Regions from separate parts of the Homo sapiens genome. Here regions 2 and 3 are each linked to region 1. The links come from fine-mapping of genetic effects on gene expression. A gene starts in region 1. Each other region holds a variant in brackets. All regions are shown on one strand. Distances are between the middles of the regions.

Region 1 (7,875 bases):
ATGTGTGCAGAGCTCACACAACTCTCTCTTCTAAGCTCTAAGGGTTAGCGTGATGTGGGCAGACAAGGAAACTGAGGCAGGGGCAGGGAAGACTTTGCTTCTAGGAGGGAAGCTGGGATTCCTATAAGACCCCCACCTCCCCACCATGGCTTCCTGTTGCTTTGGAGCCCTTCTTATGGAGACATTCCCTGGCACTCTCTTCCATGGCAGCACCTAAATGGGTAAGTGGGGACCCTCTCAGTGTCCTCCTTTAACTCTTGCTTTCTCTGTCACACCCAAAGTCCCCTTGATTTTCTCTCTGATGTTCTCTCCTGTGCAGGCAAGGCTGCTGGGGCACTCCAGCACCATGAGCGGGGCGGGGGCTGATACGGGTGGGAGAGAGGCTACGGTGGCCTAGGGAAGTGGGAGACCTAGGGTTACCCAAGGCCAGGGGTGTGGAGACACAGAAATTGAAGCAACCAGTCACTCTCAGCAGCTTGAGAGCCAGCAGGGGCCCCAGCACTCACTGTTGCCTAAAGCCACATGCCAAGCAACCCACCCTGCACCCTTGACCTTCCTCCTGCTGGCTTTGGTGTGATGGCTCTGGATGCCCCATGTGTCATCGTGCCCCGAGGCTGCAGTCCAGGGCACAGCCTAGGGGCAGGACTCACCTTTCATATCGCAGTTCTCAGTCATACCCACGGGCCCAATTTCCTGTGTCCCATTGAGCAGGTTGCAAACTGGCTGGGGCATGCATCCCTGGACTCTCAGATTGGAGAAGATGCCTCCTGCAGAAAGGGGGAGCGAGGGAGAGTCAGTGATGCTGCCTCCAGGACCACCCAACCCTCAGAGGCAGGCATAGCTCCAGGAAGCCAGGCCCACCCTCCTCTGGGTCTCATGCCGTGCCTCAGCTCACCTCACTCCCCAAAGCCTAAGATCTCAGTCCCCAGACCTTCCAGTTCAGTCCCCACAGGGACCCCGATGTCCCAGGCTTACCTCCCCTGAGCCTGAGGAGGCCATCATAACAGTGTGTGGTCCCCTTGGGGCAGATCTCTTCTGTTGTCCCCTCCAGACAGCCTTCCATAGACAAGCAGACTGGGCACCTCAAGGATCCTGGGTCTAGGAAAGTGACAGACAGAGTGAGGGGGCACTGAGAGGGCACTGGATTTGATCAGATACCTTCTCTGCACCCCACTTTTGCTGGCCTCAAGAGTCAACCTGCTCAGCCTTCCCAAAGGGGCCTTCTGCAGCTCCCATCATGGGATCTGGATGTGGGAAAATAAAGAAGTGTAATCCATAAAAGAGGAAGGGAGAATGAACAGGAGGTCTGGGTAGAGGCACCCAGGGCTGGGTACAGAAAGTGGTCTTGGCTGGGTGTGGTGACTCACACCTGTAATCCCAGCACTTTGGGAGGCTGAGGCAGGTGGATCACGAGGTCAGGAGTTCAAGACCAGCCTGGGCAACATAGTGAAACCCTGTCTCTACTAAAAATACAAAAATTAGCCGGGCGTGGTGGCAGGCTCCTCTAGTCCCTGCTACGTGGGAGGCTGACGCAGGAGAATCGCTTGAACCCGGGAGTCGGAGGTTGCAGTGAGCCGAGATTGCGCCACTGCACTCCAGCCTGGTCGACACAGCGAGACGCTTTCTCAGAAAAAAAAAAAAAAAAAAAAAAAAAGAAAAGAAAAGGGGGGGTGTCTTGGGTGGCAAGTGGGGGTGGGGGGTGGGCAGGGTGGAGGAGGGGCCTGCTGAGGCCAAATGTAGACTCAGACATGGTCAAGTCTGAACCTTTCAACAAAGTCTGGCCTTCCGAGGGGAGACACAGAAGCAGACTCATTGGTCAAGGGAATGAGGGGGTGCCCTGGAACGAGCCAGTGCCTTCACCTGCAAGCGCTACTAAACCTCCAAGAACAGGAGACTTCTGTGTTCACAAGCTGTTCCAATAAAAGAAGCGCAAAATATCTCCCTAGACTCTTTATAACACCAGACAAGGAAAGTGGAAAGTTACAGTTCAGTCTCCCTTAGGAAGAGGAAATAGCAAAAACCCTGCAGGAGAACTTCTTGAACCAAACGCAACAGAATAAAAAAAGAATGCAGGATAACCCAGTTAATGGTGATTTCATATCAGAAATCCGTCCTGTTTGCTCTTAGAAGAGGAGGGGTGCGGGGATTCCCGGGTGGCAGGTCGGTGGGAGGGATCGGGAGTGAGTGGGGAGGGATGGAAAGGGAGCGGGGCGGGGCGATGGTCAGGGAGCAGTCAGGGGAGGGATGGAGCCAGCGAGGGTCGGGATAGCGAGCGAGGGTGGGAGGGACTCCGTAACAGCCCCTCTGTGCTCAGCGGATCCCCTTCTAGCAGCCCCTCCCTCTCCTCCCGACCCTCCCGCAGGCACCTGCTGGGGGCTGTGGGGCCCAAAGCGGGAGGGAGTTAACGAGGTTGTTGCAGAAGTCCTCCTGGCGGCACACGAAGGTGTAGGAGATCAGGGAGAGGCCGGGGCCCATCCGGTGCTCAGTGACGCGGGGCTCCTGGTCCTTGGCCTCCGTGCAGCCCTTGGAGAGCACCAGGCTCACTTGGGGTCCTGGACCGAAAGAGGGAGGCAAGCGAGGATGGAGGTCAGGCCTCCAGGGTCCTGGAGGGAGACGCTGCTACACGGCGTAGGCTGAGAGGCTGGAAAGGGGATCACCGGGACCCTAGGAGTCGATCCCCCGGAGGGGTGGCTCCCGGGTCCCTGCACAGGGATCAAGGGACTGAGGGGACAGGGCGGGGTCTCTGCACGCCAGGGCCTTCTCACCGCTCTCAATGAGCATCAACGTGTCCTGGCACCCCAAGCCGCTGTCGCAGCTGGTGTTCTTAGGGGTCCATTGCCGGGGCAGGTCGGACACCTTCCACACATGCTGAACTGTCCCAAACTGGCAGAGCAGCGCCTGCACTCCTGGAGTGGCAAGAGCAAATCCATCTCAGCAGGGTTCCCTTGCCCGGCCTCCAGGGAATCTCCTCCAGGCTGGGCTCATCACTCACCTGGCAGTGGGAGGATGAACCCCAGGAGGGCCAGCAGTAATACCGCGCTCATGACCCGTCTGTGGCTGGTAATCTCTTTCTGCTTTTTCAGCAGGAAACAAGTCCTTTATACCAGCCCTTAAGCAGCCAGCCCAGAAAAGGGTGGGGAGGGGAGGGCCTTGCAAAATGGAGGCTTGGGCCCCACCCCAAGTCTCAATGGCCGCAGTGGCCTATCAGGGACCCCCTTTCTTCCTCAGACCTTCGGGTCCAGGCATCCAGCCCCTCCTCCCTCAGATGGAGGGTCCAGGACCCCCAGCCCCTCAGCCCCTCCTCCTTCAGACCCAGGAGTCCAGACCCCCAGCCCCTCCGCCCTCAGACCCAGGAGTCCAGGCCCCCAGTCCCTCCTCCCTCAGACCCAGGAGTCCAGGCCCCCAGTGCCTCCTCCCTCAGACCCAGGAGTCCAGCCCCCCAGCCCCTCCTCCCTCAGACCCAGGAGTCCAGGCCCCAGGCCTCCCTCTCTCAGACCCAGGAGTCCAGGCCCCGAGGCCCTCCTCCCTCCGACCCAGGAGTCCAGACCCCCAGGCCCTCCTCCCTCAGACCCAGGAGTCCAGGCCCCCAGGCCCTCCATAGTTAGAAACTGTGGCATCTTGACCCGAGGTTCCCCCGGTCCAGACTCCCAGCCCTCTTTCCTCCTGAGCCCAGCTATGTGGATCACCACCCCCACCCTCTTTCTCCAGTAGTTTGGGAAGGCAGTTTCCTCATTTCTCATGGGCTCCCTGGCCACCTCTGTACCCCAGATGGGGAAATGGCCCAACTACCTGTGAGGACGTTGTGCAGTGGGCATCAGCTTGTCCCCATGTCTTCCGGTCCTAGTTTCTACCCTCCACTGTCTTCCCACTTCTCTGTTCTTTCTCTTTCCTTCTTATATTGCTTTCTTTTGATTCTTCTTTTCATGCTTTTCTCTCATGCTTTCTCTTCTATTCTCTACCCTCACAGTACAACATAGGACTCAAGTCCCCAGTTTCCTACCACCAGGAAAGGCTTGGCCAGAGGTGGAGTAGAGACTGAATATCTATGAAAGAATTAGGATATATCTGAAAAATGCAACATTTATTTGCTGGAAGCCGATGGGAGAGCAGTGTTGTGCTGAAAAACCAAGTTTTCTGAAAAACAATACCCACAAATCCTGCCTCGTAGTGTTGGCCTATTTCTCTGGTGTAAATACTCATAGCATGTCTGATTTTAAGCTACCTACAGTTTGCCAACCAGGCTGATGAAATCCCTAGCTATTTAACCATGGGCTTGTCCAGGGCTGTACAAATCAGCTGTAACACACTGGGGTGGCGGGGAGGAAGACAGGAAGGAACCTGGGGTATCTGTCAGTGACTGCAGAGGGACGTTGTGGGTGTCTGTGACGGAGAGAGGAGAAGCAGAAGAGGGAAGGCGAGAGCAGGAATAGCAGAGAAAGAGAAATGAATGTGACTTGCAATTATATGTTTATTTTTGACATCTCTATAAATTTTATCTTTATTTGTCTTTGCAAGTTTATTGCAAGTTTAATATTTGCCACACAGACAGGGAAGTGTTTGTCTGATCTCCTGCTATGTCTCCACCACCTACATGGCATACAGTACATGCCCAGTAATTTTTTTTTTTTTTTAGAAACAGAGTCTTGCTCTCACCTATGCTGGAGTACAGTGGTGCAGTTGTAGCTCACTGCAGGTCACTACAGCCTCCATCTCCTGGACTCAAGCAACTCTCCCACCTCAGCCTCCCGAGTAACTGGGACTACAGGTGCACACCACCATGTCTGGTTAATTTTTGTATTTTCAATAGAGACAGGGTTTCACTATGTTGTTCAGGCTGGTCTCAAACTCCTGACCTGCGGTGTTTTCATTTTGAAAAATTTCAGGCTGGGAGCGGTGACTCATACCAGTCATCCTAGCACTTTGGGAAGCCAAGGCGGGTGGATCTATTGAAGTCAGGAGATTGAAACCAACCTGGACAACACGGTGAAACCCCATCTCTACTTAAAAAAAAAATACAAAAATTAGCCCGGTGTAGTGGCAGCCACCTGTAGTCCCAGCTACTCCGGAGACTGAGACAGGAGAATCGCTTGAACCCAAGAGGCAGAGGTTGCAGTGAGCCGAGATCGCACCACTGCACTCCAGCCTGGGCAACAGAGTAAGACTCCATCTCAAAAAAAAAGACGGAAAAATTTCAAACCGGCAGAAAAGTTGCAAGGATAGTACAGTGAACACAAGTATCCCCTTCACTGGATTCACCCACTCTTCACATTTTATTGTATCTGTTTATACACACACAACATATGCTTTTAAAATATTCTTAAATTTTAAAAACAAGGAGTAGACATTGTAACTCTCACCACTAAGTGCTTCAGCAAGAACCTTCTTAAGATTATTCTTAAGGGGGCTGGGCACAGTGACTCACACCTGTAATCCCAGCACTTTGGAAGGATCACTTTAAGTCAGGAGTTCAAGACCAGCCTGGCCAACATGGTGAAACCCCATCTCTACTAAAAATATAAAAATTAGCTGGACATGGTGACACACAACTGTAATCCCAGCTACTTGGGAGGCTGAGGCAGGAGAATCACTTGAAGCTGGTGGTGGAGGTTGCAGCAGTGAGCCGAGATCACACCACTGCACTCCAGCCTGGGTGACAGAGCCAGGCTCCATCACAAAAAATAAATAAATAAAAAAATTTTTAAAAAGCATATATCATTCTTTTTTTTCCTCTCTCTCTCTTTTTTTTTAGATGCAGTTTTGCTCTCTCACCCAAGCTGGAGTGAAGTGTCGTGATCTCTGCTCACTGCAACCTCCGCCCTCCAGGTTCAAGCAATTCTCCTGTCCCAGCCTCCCGAGTAGCTGGGATTACAGGCGCCTGCCACCACGTCCGGCTAATTTTTGTATTTATAGTAGAGACAGGGTTTCACCATGTTGACCAGGCTGGTCCTGAGCTCTTGACCTCAGGTGATCCACCTGCCTCGGCCTCCCAAAGTGCTAGGATTACAGGTGTGAGCCACCACGCCCAGCCTATATAGATTATTCTTAAGGACTTTGTCCTGCGTAACCACAGACCAGGATCAGACCCGTGTAGTTTACACAGATGCACTGTTGTCTAATAGGAAGCCCATTTCCAGTTTTCCTCTGTTGTCCCAATGACATCTCTCATTGCGTTTTTGCTTTCTGATCAGGAGAACATCCGGGGTCAAGCATGAACTGCACTGCGTTGTCTTTATGAAAGAGAAACAAAAACTCAGGACCCCAATTCACTGTGACAGAAGGAAAAAAAAAAAACTGGAAGCTGAGTCATGCAAGAAACTGCCTTTCCTTTTGTTCCTAAGCAGACAGCTACAGAGAAAAGGTTAAGTATCTCCGTAGGTAGCTACTCTATGTTCATCTTATCTTTCTTTAAAAAAATTTTTACTTATTTATTTTTTTTTGAGAGAGTATCATACTTTGTCTCCCAAGCTGGGGCGCAGTGGCACGATCTTGGCTCACTGCGACCTCTGTCTCCCGGGCTCAAGTCATTCTGTCACCTCAGCCTCCCGTGTAGCTGGGACTACAGGCACCCACCACCGCGCCCAGCTAATTTTTGTGGTTTTTTTTGTAGAGATGGGTTTTGCCATGTTGTCCATGCTGGTCTCAAGTTCCTGGGCTCATGAGATCCTCCCACCTCAGCCTTTCAAAGTGCTGGGATTACAGGTGTGAGCCACCACGCCCGGCCATATTCACCTTATCTTTCTCAAGGTGCCAATTTACTGAGCGTGAGATGAATACGTGATTGATTATTCCCCTACCTCCTGCTTTCTCTTACACCATGTGGATTCAGTAATGCGACCACACCCTCCTTCTTTCACCGCCAGCCAGCTTTTCCACCCTAAATATTGAAGTCCTCAAAATTATCTTTGGAAAAAGGCACAGACCACAGACTGTTTCTATGATTGCATGGTTTTTTCTATGTCCTTAACCTTGGCAAAATAAGCTTCTAAGTTGATGGAGACCTGTCTCAGATACCTTTTGGTTTACATCTCATCTCTGGACTCCCCTTTAATCTAGGAGTGCTCCCCACCTGCCTTTCATTTTCTTTAATGTCATTGAAAGCAATGGTTCACTTCTTTTTTTTTTGTAAAGTCTTCCACCACCTGGATGTGTCTGACTCAGACTATGATTAGAGTAGTTTTAATGATTTTTGGCAATATTCTTCTAGCTGGGTGTCGTGTGTCACATTCAGAAGGCCTTTAATGCCTGTTTGTCAAATTCTTGGCTAATTAACAACTGCTGTGTGAGGTAAGCCATGGAGGAGGCTGTGTGAATGTCCTATTCCCCACCACGAGACCCTTCTGTCTCCTTGCACACATTGTGCCCAAGCTACTTCCAGAAAATCCTCTGTGATCACGGCAAATCACATGATGCTTTTGGTCCAGCTCCCCTGCTGCCCTCCTATCCACTCTTCTGCCCATTACAGGAAGCCTTTACACCCAGGCAGCTCAGCGTCCAGAGCTGGTTCCACTCATCCCCTTCAAGGAGAGGAAAACTGAGCCCTGGGAAGGAGAAGTAAAGCTGGAGTCACAAAGCCAGGAAATGGTGGCCAGGGGCACGACCCAGGCCTTATAAACAACCTGCACTCTTCCCCCTGCAACACAGCCTGCTGAGGACGCTCATCAGTCATCTCAGTGGTTCACTTCCAATCTCTTCATCTGCCAAGCACCCAGCATGTTCCAGCAAAGACAAATTATTCCTATGGCAAACTGACCTGCATGCAGTTTACAGGACTTTATGTTATAAAGAGGAGGGATCTATGGCACTTAATGAAAAGTTACACTTAAAGATTTTCATAGGCCTGGCTGGGTGTGGTGTCTCATGCCTGTAATCCCAGCA
Region 2 (7,875 bases), 65 kb after region 1:
CTGGCCAGGACACACCCTGATGTTATTCAAAGGCTTCTGGACTGAACACAGCCTCCGGCAGCCCATCCAGATGTTGGTAATGGGTCTCCTAATTTGCTATCCTGTTGCAAATTTGTTCTTCCTTTCTATCCATGGTCTCTATGTCTCCTATTCTTTCTGTGTATGCAATATGTGGAAATTTTTACAGTTCAGGGAAACAGTTCTGTTAGGAAAGATCGGTAAATGCTATAATAACTAACCCAATAGGTGTCTCAGTCTCTCTCTCTCTCTCTCTCTCCTTCCTTTGGTAAGCACGTGGTATTTCTAAGCCAACAATGTCATCTAGTAGAAATAGAAATCCTCCTCATAAGGCACATTGTTGGTCCTTTGCCATAACACTGCACTTTTCCAATTCTCTCTTTTTGCACTGATAGAAAAGCCCTTTCTGTGAATGGGAAAGCTCTGCTTTCAACAATTAGGAGTAAAATGTCTTCCATAGCCAAATTTTAGTTCTGATACTGCTGCATCAGCAGGAAAAACTGCCATTAGGTCCCTACATTCATTTAAAGTACCTATTCTATCTCCAATTAGAACAGTATTTAATTAGTAAGGATACTTTAAGAACAGAGTTAACCAGGACCACTTTTCTGAGGGTAAATGCTTTAGCACGTATCTGGCAACTGGCACATTCCCTCTGTTAAAGAAAGCTTGCTCAAAGGCAACTGTTACAGTTTCTCGAGAGATCCATTTTTCAGGAAGCCAGGCAGATCACAGGCAGATAAGCTAATGTTGCATGGGTAAAGTGTGGCTAATCCCATCACTTCATTTATCTAGTTCCATGGCTTACAGGGCCACACCTACAACCATGGGCAGCACATTTAACATAGTGCCGGGACTCAGGAACCAAGGAGAGAAAACAGTTGGGGGGACGCTCCCACTGTCTTCCACTCCACTCTGGGTCTCAATGAAATAAGGAGGACTATAAGGACACTTTTATTCTCACTTCTTTTTCTCAATGGCTAACAGAGCATCTTCAGCTTGCACCCCTCTGGAGCGCACTCTGAGGCACTAGAACTCTTTTAACCTCAGGACTTTCAAGAGAAAAGCAACTCATTCTATTTTGCAAAATGACAGGGCATTTTTACTAAACCTTTACAAGCATTGTAACAGCAACCCAGATTTTTTAACAGCCATATCAGGCAGGCTTATAAAGAATAATATCCTAGAATTAGAAAAGCAACTTCCAAGGGAACCATCTGAGAATCTCCATAATTTGGGGTCCCTCCAAGTTCCCTTCTCATTACAGGACCTTAGGCAAATAAAGTAAGACTTAGGCCAATTTTCAGACAATCCTGACAGGTATATAGAAGCTTTCCAGAATTTAAGTCAGGTGTTTCACCTCACATGGAAGGATGTTATACTGCTCCTAATCCAAACCCTAACTGCAGCTGAAAAACAGGCAGCTCTGCAAGCAGCAGAGAATTTTGGAGATGAGCAACATATCTCCTATAATACACCAAAAGGGAAGGAAGGAGATACAGAAAGTGAAGAAATAGCAGAAACACCATTCCAAATAGTAAGTGAAGCAGTACCTCTTGACAACCCTGATTGAAACCCCAATAGCCCTGTAGATGAATGAAAAAGAAAAACTAAGGCCAGACCTCTTAATTCCTCTAAACTGTCTAGGATAGACTCAAAGCCAGATGAGAATCCTGCAGCCTTTATGGATAGGTTGAGAGGGGCACTATTAGCACACACCTTTTTATCTCCTGATTCAGTCAAGTGACAGCCCATTCCAAAAGATAAGTTTATTATACATAAAGCTCCCAATATTAGAAGGAACCTATAAAAGGCAAGCTATAGTAGCAGATAGCACCTTGGAAAACCTTCTGAGGGTAGCCACTTCAGTCTTTTATAATAGGGACTAGGAGAAGGCCCAGAAGAAAGAGAGAAAGCTCAAGAGAAGGACAAAGCCTCTAGTAGCTGCTTTGCAGAGTTGCAAAGTCCAGGATCCCAGAGGTGTATCCACTAGTTGCTCTCGGTGTGGCAAGCCAGGGCATTTGAGGAAGAAGTGTCCAAAGAGCAAGAGGAAGCCACCTTGACCCTGTCCAGCCTGTGGTGGAGACCACTGGAGATGCAACTGCTCCCAGAGATGGAGGTCACTGGGTTCAGAACCAGTCTCACAGTGGTCCAGCAGGACTGATGGGTCCTGGGGCTCAAACCCCTGGCTCCAGCAGCTCAAACTGCCATTACAGCACAGGAGACACAGGTCATTCTGGAAATTATAGGGAGGAAAGTAGACCTCCTTCTAAACACTAGATCTAGTCTCTCTCTTTTCTCCTTTCTTATCCAGGCCTCCCCTCTTCCCATAGCACAACCATAAGGGGTGTCTCAGGAAAAATTCTAATCCAATATTTTTCTCAGCCTCTTATTTGCAGTTAGGAGGACCTATTTTTTACATCTGCTTCCAAACCACTGTCACAATAGCTCTACTAATCAGAAAAGCCTCCAAATTAACCCTAGGAAAAAACGGTTTACACCCCCACTTAATGTGGCAAAATTACTTTCCTCTAGAGGGAGCTCTTAGCTAACAATCAGCTGGTAAAGCAAGAAATACGTAAGGTAGGATAAGCAGTAGTCACTCTAAATAATATCTCTCTTCAGGTGCAGGTGCTCAATCAGCTAAACAAACAGTTAATACAAGAGCACTTAAATTAAGCAAGGGAAAGGTAGCTAACATTTACACTGATTCCAAGTATGCTTTTTGAGTTCTTCATGCTCATGCTGCCATTTAAAATAAAAGGCATTTTCTTACCACTAATGGACTTCCTATAAAATATCACCAAAAAATTAACAGGTTATTATCGTCAGTTTTCTTTCATGAGAAATAGCAGTGATACATTATAGAGAACATCAAAAAGGGAACAGATGAAGTAGCCAAAAGAAATAGGTTCACTGATCAGGCAGCTAAGTCACTGGCAAGGCATCAACACACCTCAAAGCCTTCTAATCTAGGAAGACTCCATAAGATAAATTAAACCTCAGTACCTTCCTGCAGAAATAAAATAGGCCACTTCTCAGGGTATCCTTTCCAGTCCTCAGAATGGCTGTAGTCAGAGGATGGCAAACTCCGTTTGCCAGCCTTCAGCCAACGAGAAATCCTTAAAATCCTTCATCAAGCTTTTCACGTAGAAGAGGATAAAACTTATCAATGTGCTCACAGATGATTTTCATATAGAAAATCTCTAAATTGGTTAAGCATGTAACCTCTCTAGCTCACTTCCAACAGGACACATGTAGCAAAAGCCCAACCCCAGGAAATAAGACCACCCTTATTTAACCCAGATTTGGTATTAGTAGAAACTCTCTTCTCTCTCCCTCTATCTCTCTCCTTAAGTTAAGTGGTTAAAATGGCACATTATATATATACACACATATATATATATACACACACACACATACATATATATACATATACACATATACATACACACATATATATGTGTGTATATTTATAGACATATGTATCTACATGTCAAATTTATATGAATATATATTCACATCTAACAAATACAAGTATGTATGTGTTTCTATATACACACTCAACCACAATTTTTTGAAAAGTGTTTGGTGAAAAAAAAACCCGCTGTGTAAAACACACCCACCCTAATCACATAGCCCTCATACACTTCCATGCAGACCTCTCATGACATTATCTGCAGACAGGTTCAAGAAGTACCGTCCAGCAAACAGCACATGCACAACATAAATGTATTTGCAGAGACTCAGAGCTAACCTGGAGGCACGAACCTCGGCACTGCCAGGACACATACCCTTCCCCATGGATTCTGACTTTATCTGACCCAGCCCACTATCCAGATCTTGTTGTGGGGCTGGGGTAGAGAAAGTCACAAAGCCTGTTCCCTGGACACTCTGTGTGACACTCAAGACCACCCCCACCCCATCATTAGGTCTCCCCACACAG[G/T]TCTGACCATCATGCATCGTGAGGAGGACTCTAGCATAGGCTCAGAAACCATACAAAAGAATTAGCCACAGAGAGAAACACTGAGCTAGAGGAGCTGGTTGCTGACATGGAACAGGTTCCCTGTAGTTCAGGAGTCCAACTCGGTCTGAATTTCCCTCACTTCATAAGCCAGGCACCCCTGAGAAACAGCTTTTTCCCATGGTCTCCTCTGTGGTAACACATTAGGGTCCCTCGCTGTCAAGATTCTAGAGATGGAAGAAACCTGGACAGCACACATCCCAGCTTCACCCTTCCTCTCTTTCTCCCTCCCTGCCAGGAATCAGGGCTCAGGGCTCAGGAGGAAAGGCACAGCCCAGTGAGGCCAGAGTTGGTGAGATGTCTGAAAGGTGTTCAGTGAAAAAAGTGCATCCCTCTTTCATTCTACCTGATGAGCCCTGTCCTGCACAGCTTCCTCCACCCTGAGGACTTCCCCAGACACCCTCTCTAACAAAGCTGACTGCCCCGTTTCCTTTCTGCTCACACTTAGGCCTGTCCTGCCTTCTGGGAAATGTAAAATGCACCAAAATCAGCCAAAGCAGCCACCCCTGCCAGGATCCATAATAAGGCAATGTCCCTGGGTCACCAAGAGAATGAGCTTCCACTGTGTCGCAGTCCAGGGCTCTTTCCCTCTGAGAGGCTGACTCATGAAACAGGCCACCAGAAAGAGATCAGTGACTCCTCCATCCATTCTTATAATCACCTGACAGGTTCTTGCCCTCTGCGCAGGCAAAGCCAATTTATTGTGAAGGTGATGTGTAGTAAAAAATGGTTTTGCTTAGCCCAAGGCTGCCAAACAGGAGGATAGAAGTTTATTATGACTCAAATCAGCTTCCCCAGTGGCTCAGAGGTTAGAGTTTTTCAAAAACTTTGAGGGGCAAAGTTCTAAGGAATAAGTACTGTTGACTGGCTAAAGATGAAATGATGCCGGTAGGGGAAATGGTCTGTATTTGTTGAATCTGCCTCTGAGTGGGGGGCCACATGACTGGTTGAGCCATTGGTCATGAGTCTAGATGAGGTCAGCTGGTTGCCGGAATGCAAAAATCTGAGAAACATCTCCAAAGACAAATCTCAGATTCTACAATAGTGTTGCTATCTATAGGAGCAACTAGGAAAGTCACAAATCTTGTGACCTCTGGACACATGACTCCTGAGCAGTAAGGGATTATAGAAACTATGCCTGCATTTTAGCAGAATTTGGGCTCCTGCATAATTCATGGTCTTTTCTTAGATTTACCACGGTAGTCCCCGACAAGGAGGGAGCTAATTTTAGGGAGGGACTATTATCATCCTTGCGTCAAAGTTAAACTATAAATTCCTTCCATGCTTACCCTGGCCTATGCCCAAGAATCAGAGAGGACACCCAGCCTGAGGCTAGAGGTGAGATGGGGTCAGCCAAGCTAGCTTCCTCTCACCATCATATGCTTTGCAAAGGTGGTTTCACTTTCTACATAGACTCACCAGGTGGTCAGACGCTGAAGGACAGACCTGCAGTTTCCAAAGCCCATGGGCTCATTTCACCCATTTCACTCATGACTCCATCCTCAACCTGCTGTGGGGCTCATATCCTCCAGTCATGCCCTAGAGACTTCGAATTTCCGCCAGGCATGTAAGTAGCTTAAAAATTTTCACTCAGTTCTAACAACAAGTAAAAAGCTGAACAAACTGAAAAAACAACAACTCATTTAGATTTGTCAGAGAAGCAAGGTCTCAGTGCTAACTGGCCCACATATTGAAGAGACCCACAGGCAAATACAGAGCAGCGCACCGTACCTGAGCAGAAACACAGGCACAGAAACCTCAGCGGGAACCAGTGCTGGGGTCAGAAAACCTCAACTCTAATTGAGGAAATTCTGGAGGCTCAGTGTGGACACAGCGCAGAGATAAACACACCAGTGGATGAATTAGCCTTGGGAGTAGGGGGACAGTTTTATGACTCTTAGCTCCTGGAGCTCTACCAGGTTCTCACAGTCAATATCCAAAAAGAATCCCTGCATCCTTCTTGTAGGAGAGAAGGGAAAAAAACACTTGGAAAGTTGTCAGTGAATTATATTCTTCTTGGTAAGACCTACATTTAAGAGGAACTATTTTACTGCAGCCTAATTAGCTGGGGTTTGATGGGAGCTTAACTGGCCAGGGGGAGGGGAAATATCCAACTCCAGCCTCCTCAAGTCATCATATCCCACCTAATGGAAAGAAAAACCTGAGAGGCACTTGTGACATTCACAGCCCAGGACACAGATCTCATCCAGAACCACAGAACCCTTCCCTCCCCTCACTCACCACCATGTCACTGAATGCCTGCTCACTCAAGTCCCTTTTACCCAGTACATCATGTGTGGTTTTCAAAAAAATACAAGACAGACTATGGCAAAAAAAAAAAAAAAAATAATGCAGTTTGAAAAACAGAGCAAGGATCAGAACCAGACACAGATGTGGTAGGGATGTTGAAATTATCAGACTGAAAATTTAAAACAACTCTGGTTAAGGATTATGATGGAAAAAGGAGACACCTTTCAGGAATAGATGGGTGATTTAAACAGAGAGATGGCTATTCTAAGAAAGAAGCAAAAGAAATGCTAGAGATTAAAAACACTTTAAGCGAAATAAAGAATGCCCTGCATGGGCTTACTGGTAGGCTGCCCACAGCTGAGGAAAGAATCTCTAGCTTAAGTGTGTGTCAATAGGAACTTCCAAAACTGAAACAGCAAAGTTTAACAAGAGTGAGAAAAAGTGGAACAACATATTCAGCTTCATATTCAATATTTGGTATTGACAATAGCATATTTTATATTCTGAAGTTGTATTTTATATTTTGTAGCCTACAAAGGCTGTAACATACACATAATGGGAATACTGGTGGTTCCTAGGACCAGGTGGAGCTGGCCAGGTGGGTGCTGTTTGATTTACTGCCTGTTTCATGCACACCTGTGTACTCATAATAACAACAGTGTCATAAGGTGGGGTCCTTCGGGTGGGGAGATGCATGAGCCACTGCTGCCTCACTTAGACTCTGCCCAATTTAAACAAAGTTAATCAAACTCTAATTATATGACCCTGCTCAATTCACAGTTCACCAGTATTGCTGCTTGATTCACAGTTCAGAAGTCTGTGCATCTCCCACACAGAGCAGGTGGCCCCATGGTCTCTGAGCCCTCAGATCATCATGCATCCATCTGTCTTTTGACACACAGAACTGCTGTGGGCTTTTAAGGACTTGGATTGGCTGAGAGGTGGGAGATGTCAACTCTGATTGGAAAATGCTCGTGGAGAAATCAATGGTGCCACACAGGGGAATCTTCTCTGTTATCTGCACAGTGAATCTGCCCAAGCCCTATGTCACCAGCAACCCCGCGGAGGATGAGGAGGCTGTGGTCTTAACCTGTGAACCTGAGACTCATGGCACAATCTACATGTGGTGGGTAAATAGTCATAGACTCACACTCAGTCCCAGGCTAAAGATGTCCAATGATAACAGGGTCCTTGCTCTACTCAGTGTCACAAGGAGTGACACAGGACTCTATGAATGTCAAAGGAAGAATGTAGTGAGTACCAGCCACAGTGACCCAGTCACCTGGATGTTCTCTGTGAGTATCCTCTTTTCCTTCATGGACAAGGCTGCCAGCCCAAATCCACATAACACGAGGCCAGGCCTCTCAGTCCCTCTCAGGTCCAAGTATGAAGACACTTACCCCTGGACCCCCAAGCTGGCCATGACTTTCTGTCCCAGGCAAACCTGGGTAGGCCCAGGAAGGGAGGGGCTTCTCCGGTCTTAGGGGACTCTGGTTCCATAGCTTGCGATGGGAGAACACGTGAATGTCTTAGACTCCTCCAGTTCAGTGAACACAGAAGAAATTTGGCTGGGACTTCAGGGT
Region 3 (7,875 bases), 31 kb after region 1:
GGACCGCACCCTGTAGCCTTTCTGTCCAAACAACTTGACCTTACTGTTTTAGCCTAGCCCTCATGTCTGTGTGCAGCGGCTGCCGCTGCTTTAATACTTTTAGAGGCCCTGAAAATCACAAACTATGCTCAACTCACTCTCTACATTTCTCAACTTCCAAAATCTATTTTCTTCCTCATACCTGACGCATACACTTTCTGCTCCCCGGCTCCTTCAGCTGTACTCACTCTTTGTTAAGTCCCACAATTACCACTGTTCCTGGCCCGGACTTCAATCTGGCCTCCCACATTATTCCTGATACCACACCTGACCCCCATGACTGTATCTCTCTGATCCACCTGCTATTCACCCCATTTCCCTGTATTTCCTTCTTTCCTATTCCTCACCCTGATCACGCTTGATTTATTGATGGCAGTTCCACCAGGCCTAATCGCCACATACCAGCAAATGCAGGCTATGCTATAGTACAAGCCACTAGCCTGCCTCTCAGAACCTCTCATTTCCTTTCCATCGTGGAAATCTATCCTCAAGAAAATAACTTCTCAGTGTTCCATCTGCTATTCTACTACTCCTCAGGGATTATTCAGGCCCCCTCCCTTCCCTACACATCAAGCTCGAGAATTTGCCCCCACCCAGGACTGGCAAATTAGCTTTACTCAACATGCCCGAGTCAGGAAACTAAAATACCTCTTAGTCTAAATAGACACTTTCACTGAATAAGTAAAGGCCTTTCCTACAGGGTCTGAGAAGGCCACCACAGTCATTTCTTCCCTTCTGTCAGACATAATTCCTCAGTTTAGCCTTCCCACCTCTATACAGTCTGATAGCAGACCAGCCTTTATTAGTCAAATCAGCCAATTAGTTTTTCAGGCTCTTAGTATTCAGTGAAACCTTTATATCCCTTACGGTCCTCCGTCTTCAAGAAAAGTAGAACGGACTAAAGGTCTTTTAAAAACACACCTCACCAAGCTCAGCCACCAACTTAAAAAGGACTGGACAATACTTTTACCACTTTCACTTCTCAGAATTCAGGCCTGTCCTCAGAATGCTACAAGGTACAGCCCATTTAAGCTCCTGTATAGATGCTCCTTTTTATTAGGCCCCAGTCTCATTCCAGACACTGGACCAACTTAGACTGTGCCCCCAAGAAAACTTGTCATCCCTACTATTTTCTGTCTAGTCATATTCCTATTCTCCATTCTCAACTACTCACACATGCCCTGCTCTTGTTCACACTGCCAGTTTACACTGTTTCTCCAAGCCATCACAGCTGATATCTCCTCGTGCTATCCCCAAACTGCCACTCTTAACTCTTGAAGTAAATAAATAATCTTTGCTGGCAGGACTATGCTGAATCTCCTTAGGCACTCTCTAATCAGATGTCCTAGGTCCTCCCAATTCTTAGACCTTTTATACCTGTTTTTCTCCTTCTTATTCCATTTAGTTTTTCAATTCACACAAAACTGTATCCAGGCCATCACCAATCATACTATATGACAAATGTTTCTTCTAACAACCCCACAATATCACCCCTTACCACAAGATCTCCTTTCAGCTTAATCTCTCCCACTCTAGGTTCCCACCCGCCCCTAATCCCGCTTGAAGCAGCCCTGAGAAACATCGCCCATTCTCTCTCCATACCACCCCCCAAAAATTTTCGCCACCCCAACACTTCAACACTATTTTGTTTTATTTTTCTTATTAATATAAGAAGGCAGGAATGTCAGTCCTCTGAGCCCAAGCCAAGCCATCGCATCCCCTGTGACTTGCACGTATACGCCCAGATGGCCTGAAGTTACTGAAGAATCACAAAAGAAGTGAAAAGGCCCTGCCCCGCCTTAACTGATGACATTCCACCATTGTGATTTGTTCCTGCCCCACCTTAACTGAGTGATTAACCCTGTGAATTTCCTTCTCCTGGCTCAGAAGCTCCCCCACTGAGCACCTTGTGACCCCCGCCCCTGCCCACCAGAGAACAACCCCCTTTGACTGTAATTTTCCATTACCTTCCCAAATCCTATAAAATGGCCCCATCCCTATCTCCCTTTGCTGACTCTCTTTTCGGACTCAGCCCACCTGCACCCAGGTGAAATAAACAACCATGTTGCTCACACAAAGCCTGTTTGGTGGTCTCTTCACACGGACACGTATGAAAAGAAAGACATGAGATTTGAGAGAAACCAGGGAAAGAATGATATGTTTTGGATTTATATTCCCACTCAAATCTCATGTCAAGTTGTAATCTCCAAAGTTGTAGGTGGAGCCTGGTTGAAGGTGATTGGATTATGGGGATGGTTTCTCATGGTTTAACACCATTCCTCTTGGTGCTTTCCTAGTGACAGTGAGTTCTCAGGTGATCTGGTTAAGAGTGTGTAACCCTTGCTGTCTTCCTCCTGCTCTCACCTGTGAGATGCCTTGTTCTGCCTTGGCCTTCCACAATGATTGTAAGTTTCCCGAGGCCTCCTCAAAAGCTGAGCAAATGTGAGAGTCATGCCAAACCATGAGCCAATTCAACCTCTTTTCTTTATAAATTACCCAGTCTCAGGTATTTCTCAGTAGCAATGTGAGAACAAACAAATACAGCATTATTTTCAGGAGAGAAAAAACAGGAAGTAAGCAATTCTAACTAGTTACCAGGTGTAAAGCCCAAGATAAACAGCAAAGCTATGAAGATTATACCTGGAGAATCTAATCTCTTCCAGCATGGCCAAAAGGCACAGCTGTGGGATGGGATGAGTTTTGTCCCCAGTTCTTGCTATGGTCGCTCATCTAGAACTCAGAATCTAAAGGCTCAAATCTAAAGATATAAGGTCACAGAAAAATTAAGAAAATGTATATATACAGAAGCAACCATATGATGACCCTAAAACATCTAGTAAATACAATATAAAAATGTCTGCCAACAGACCCAGGCACAAATGTCTAAATTAAATCTGAAGACATTTCTACTTCATTTTACCAATAATTTTTAAACTATCTTTATTTACCAAAGATTACTAAAATCACATGTATTGAAAAGCATTTGGGATTATTTACTTAATTTATGAGTACTTATTTTTACATTAATTTGATACCATGTATGTAAACAACATATAATCATATGTATGGACATAGACATATATGTGATACAGCATATAACATACACATGTGCACATAAAGATAGAGGGAGGCAGAAAGAGTTTAGAGTTTTGATTTCAGCATAGGACCGATCAAATTCAGTATTTAAAAAAGACAGTTGGATTAAATTTGTGCCTTTGTAAATGGAAGAGGTTAACATTTAATTAAGCCAGACTTTATTGAGTTTTAGAGAAAATTGGTAGCAAATTTACATCTCAAAGCACAGAGAGAAAGAGAACTAAAGCTTTTACAAGAAGGAATTTGTGTGTGTTCAAGGAAGATTAAAAATAGATGCCAAGGTAACACAAAAATGACAGAAATTTACCATAGGATTTTATAAGGAGACCAATTTTATTTAGATAGGCAGCTTTTAATTTGGTCTCTGTTTTCCAACTGGACCACTGAGCTCAGGACAGAGCCCATTAAGGAAGAGGACCAACGAAGTCTTGCAACTTTTAGATCCTAATAATTTAAATACATAAAAAGAAGACCCAGTTGCAAGGGACAGCATCCAGACCTTTATAAATCAAGGATTTCACTGAATCCCAGGTCCCTGAGAAGAGGAAAATGCCAATGGAACCATACTATGCAACACTTCCACAGTGTACTTTGCTATAAGGGCATTTTTCTAATTATTTAAACTGTGTATTTCTTATCTAAACTTGCAAAGAAATGAGTAGCATTCTGAAGTAATAATCATTTATTGCGAGCGCTGTTAGTCACCTCCAAAACCAAAGCTCTTACCAGTGACCCAGCAGCCATCACACATATAAGGTCAAGCATTTTTACAGTGCAAAGTAATCTCTGATGCCCCCAAAAGCCAAAGAGGTCAGGGAAAATGGAAAAGAGAGCAGAGTTTTAGACCTGAGAGGAATCCATTTACTTACAACTCTTGGGGTTCCATGAGGAAAAACAGTGGTTTCTCCTAAATAGGGAAGTCTGTGGCATCTTTTCTGTTTTCCTTAAGGGGTTCCAGGCTGTCAGAAATTCTTTAGGTTCCCTCATGTGGCATCAAGAATAGCAAGAGGAAGGATGGAAAGAGAAATAAGCAGAAAAAGAATTTTTAAGAAAAAAACCAGACAGACTAAGCACATGATTTAAAAAGATTTCAGTCAACTGAAAAAAAATCTTTCAAAGATACAAAAGAGATGGCCAGAGGCAGTGGCTCACATCTGTAATGGCAGCACTTTGGGAGACTGAGGCGGG[C/G]AGATTACTCAAGGCCAGGAGTTCAAGACCAGCAACATGGCGAAACCCAGTCTCTAGTAAAAATACAAAAATCAGTCAGGTGTGGTGGCACGTGCCTGTAATCTCAGCTGCTCAAGAGGCTGAGGCCCAAGAATCCCTTGAACCCAGGAGGTGGAGGTTGCAGCGAGCTGAGATTGTGCCACTGCACTTAAGCCTGGGTGACAGAGTGACAGCCTGTCTCAAAAAAAAAAAAAGATACAAAAGAGAAAAGCAGAAAAGCCTTCAATATACATTCAAGTCCTTTCTCAATATATATCCAATATGAATTTATATATTCTGTGTATATACATATTCTATATATATATAATATTTTATATATATATTATTTTAATATATACATGGCTTAATATTATAAATATTAATAATTATATGGCTTAAATACCATTAATAAATATATGGCTTAAATACCAGTTTTTAATTAAGCTGACTCTTAATCACAGAGCTGTTTTGGGAAATCCTTCTCTTAGCTGCCAAACATAGCTGAGAAATGACACCAAAGCATGTTAGCAGCAGTGAATCTGTAGACGTCTTCAGCAACCTCAATTCTTGCCTCTTTAGAAGAAGTAATTTGACTAAGAGGCATAAGGCAGAAGAAGGGACTGAGGTAAGTGTTAGAGCAGGAGTAAAAGTTTATTTAAAAGCTTTAAGGCAGGAATTAAAGGAAGTAAAGTACAATTAAAAGAGAGTCAAGCAGGCTGGATACAGTGACTCACACTTGTAATCCTAGCACTTTGGGAGGCCGAGATGGGTAGATCACCTGAGGTCAGGAGTTTGAGACCAACCTGGCCAACATGGTGAAATTTCGTCTCTACCAAAAATACAAAAATTAGCTGGGTGTGGTAGCATGTGCCTGTAGTCCCAGCTACTAGGGAGGCTGAGGCGGGAGGATCATTTGAACCTGGGAGGCGAAGGTTGCAGTGATCTGAGATCATGCCACTGCACTCTAGCCTGGGTGACAGAGCAAGACTCTGTTGCAAAAAAATAAATAAATAAAAATAAAAAAATAAAAAAGCCAAGCAGGCAACAAGAGATCAAGTGCATTGCTTGACCTCTGACTTAGGCTTTTGTATGTTGGCATAATTCTGGGGTCTGCATCTCCTCTCCCCTTATTTTCCCTTTGGAGTGGGCTGTCTGCATGTGCAGTGGCCTGCTAGCACTTGGGGTGGGGTGAACATGCGCAGTGTATTTACTGGAGTTGTATGCATGCTCACTTGAGGTGTTCTTCTCTTTCCAGTCAAATGTCCCTGGGAGGTCACAAACCAGTTAAACTCCACCATTTTGCCTCTTAATGCACATGTTTTAGCCCACTCACCCAACTTCTGAGAACTTATCAGGAAGGAGCTGATCAACTGTTTCAGGTGTTTCCTGTCTATTGGGAGACTGCCTTTCCCTGGTGCTAGCTACAACCCATTATTATTTTAGAGAGACAGTTAACGACCACCTGACAATCACCTGATGGTCATGACATTCCTGGTGTGTGGGGGAAGGAGGCTCCCTCCTGTCCTGCTGATGTCTGACTAGCTACCCACTGTAATACTTTCAGATTTTTTATTATCAGATTTTAGCTAGGACAAACAGCTGATATTTCTGGCTTTTGAATTTTTTTTTAACCAAAAGTATCCTCCCAGCTGAAACTGATAAGCACTAACCATAATTGTGACTTAGCCAAGGATGCATGAGACATCTCCAAAGATGTAAATGAGTACCACAAAAACTCAAAAATCACACAAATATCAAAACAAAAGTGGCAGAGGCATTTGAAGTAGAGTGACTCCATCTTGAGTGAGGGCTGGGAAAATGAGGCTGGGACTTGTTGGGCTGCATTTCCAGAAAGTGAGGCATTCCTAGCCTCTAGATGTTTATGGTTAAGGGAACAAATCAATAATATTTACTAAACAGACCCAGACTTGGGAGTGTCCAGATATCCCAATATCTGGAAAACAAAGTGATTCCTAATTTTGCTTTAAAGATAATAACTTAGATTCTTGCAAAATATCACAATTAAGAAAATTAATCCTTATCACAAACCTTTGTAGCAGGGTACATCTCCCCATATATATGAGCACTGTACCTAGGGTGGGTGTGTGCCTCCTCTTACTTTCAAGAACATCCTACTGTGACTATGGAGTAGCTGTACTTTCACTACTTTACTTTCTTAATAAACTTGCTTTTACTTTGCGCTGCAGACTTGCCCTGAATTCTTTCTCGTGCAAGATCCAAGAATCCTCTCTTTGGGCATGGATTGGGACCTTTTTCCTGTAACAAAAGCGGTTCATTCTCTGACTTGTAATTGAATCCAGGCTGCAACAGTGAAAGTGTGGAATTTTAACTACTGGATGACATGGTGAAGTGGCTTTAATCCTTATTGCCTCAGGAGATCTAAAGCAAGTCATTTGAGATTACAAAAAACTTAACTTTGTTTAAGGCTAGATTTTTGCTCTGTAAGTTAGTCAAGAGAATATTTAAGGCTAGCCGTGACACTATTATGTGTCTTTCTTTAAAATTTGATTCTCCTCAAACTATCTTGGCAAAATTATGACTGAGACAGTGAAAGAGATCTAACCTAACCTAATGAACACCGTCTTGCTTCTAACCTCCAAGCTGTCCTTGTTCGGTCCTGGGCATAGGCTGAACTAACTTTAATAGGAATTTAGTTTACAGTTTAAAACAAAGACGATAACAGCCCTTTCCCAAAACGAACCTCCTTCTTGCCTGGGGACAAGACTGCCTTTGTGGGACTAACAAATTAGCCACAAGATTAGAAATTACGGTTTAAGAGTCATGCAGCTGGAGGCTACAAGATTCTGACCCTCTCTAAACTGCTCCTGAGATCTGTCTGAGCTATTTGGCAGACCCTGCACTTGATGGATGGATGAGCTGGCCCCACCCAGATCGATAAAATGGGTCATTTGATCTTGTGACCTCTACTCAGGAACTGACTCAGCAAAAAAGGACAGCTTCAACTTCCCATGATTTCATCTCCTACCTAACCAATCAGCACTCATGCTACATCAGCTGACATTAAAATTACTTAGATATACAATTTGAATGAACGTCATGGTCTAAGTCAAATTACCTATGATAACCCATCAGTTATCAGTGCTATGCACATAATTTGAAGAAAAACTATGATTCAAGAGGATATGAGTCTAATATTAATTAAGCATGGACTCATGGAGAACCAGGATGGCCACCTTGTCCTTCCTAAGTCCTTAAAGCTTTTATTATTAAAAGTTCTGCATTCCATGACTCATCATGGAAAAGATAAAAATATTCAAATGGAATATATTGGTGTGGTGACTTATAAATTGTTAAAAGAATTTATAACCAATGTTTGGCCCCATATTCCTGGGAAAACAATCAAAGCTTCAGGTACACTTGGTCACCTGCTGGTCCATTTAAACATTTTATAATGAGATTTCATTCAATTGTTATTTTCAATGCATATTTTCTGGTTCTGGTTGTATAAAAGCTCTCCCATGCAAGAGGGCTCATGTTATCTACTAAGTTATT

What was found.
Region 2: its variant is fine-mapped to the expression of CD177 in whole blood (TOPMed, PIP 0.96).
Region 3: its variant is fine-mapped to the expression of CD177 in whole blood (INTERVAL, PIP above 0.99).

The regions. Positions count from the first base shown.
Region 1 is chr19:43,348,884-43,356,758 of GRCh38, reverse strand. CD177 (CD177 molecule) reads right to left here and starts at 3,073. Exons shown (of 9, transcript NM_020406.4): 1 at 2,993-3,073; 2 at 2,766-2,906; 3 at 2,367-2,552; 4 at 976-1,098; 5 at 651-767. The coding sequence starts at 3,044. It overlaps PRG1 (p53-responsive gene 1), which reads right to left and starts at 7,703. Exons shown (of 1, transcript NR_026881.1): 1 at 7,211-7,703.
Region 2 is chr19:43,283,790-43,291,664 of GRCh38, reverse strand. It overlaps the pseudogene CEACAMP11. Among named protein-coding and RNA genes, the nearest start is that of PSG9, 18 kb to the right of the region's middle. The variant G/T (reference allele first, on the strand shown) is at 3,965.
Region 3 is chr19:43,317,791-43,325,665 of GRCh38, reverse strand. No RefSeq gene overlaps it. Among named protein-coding and RNA genes, the nearest start is that of LINC03078, 9.8 kb to the left of the region's middle. The variant C/G (reference allele first, on the strand shown) is at 4,324.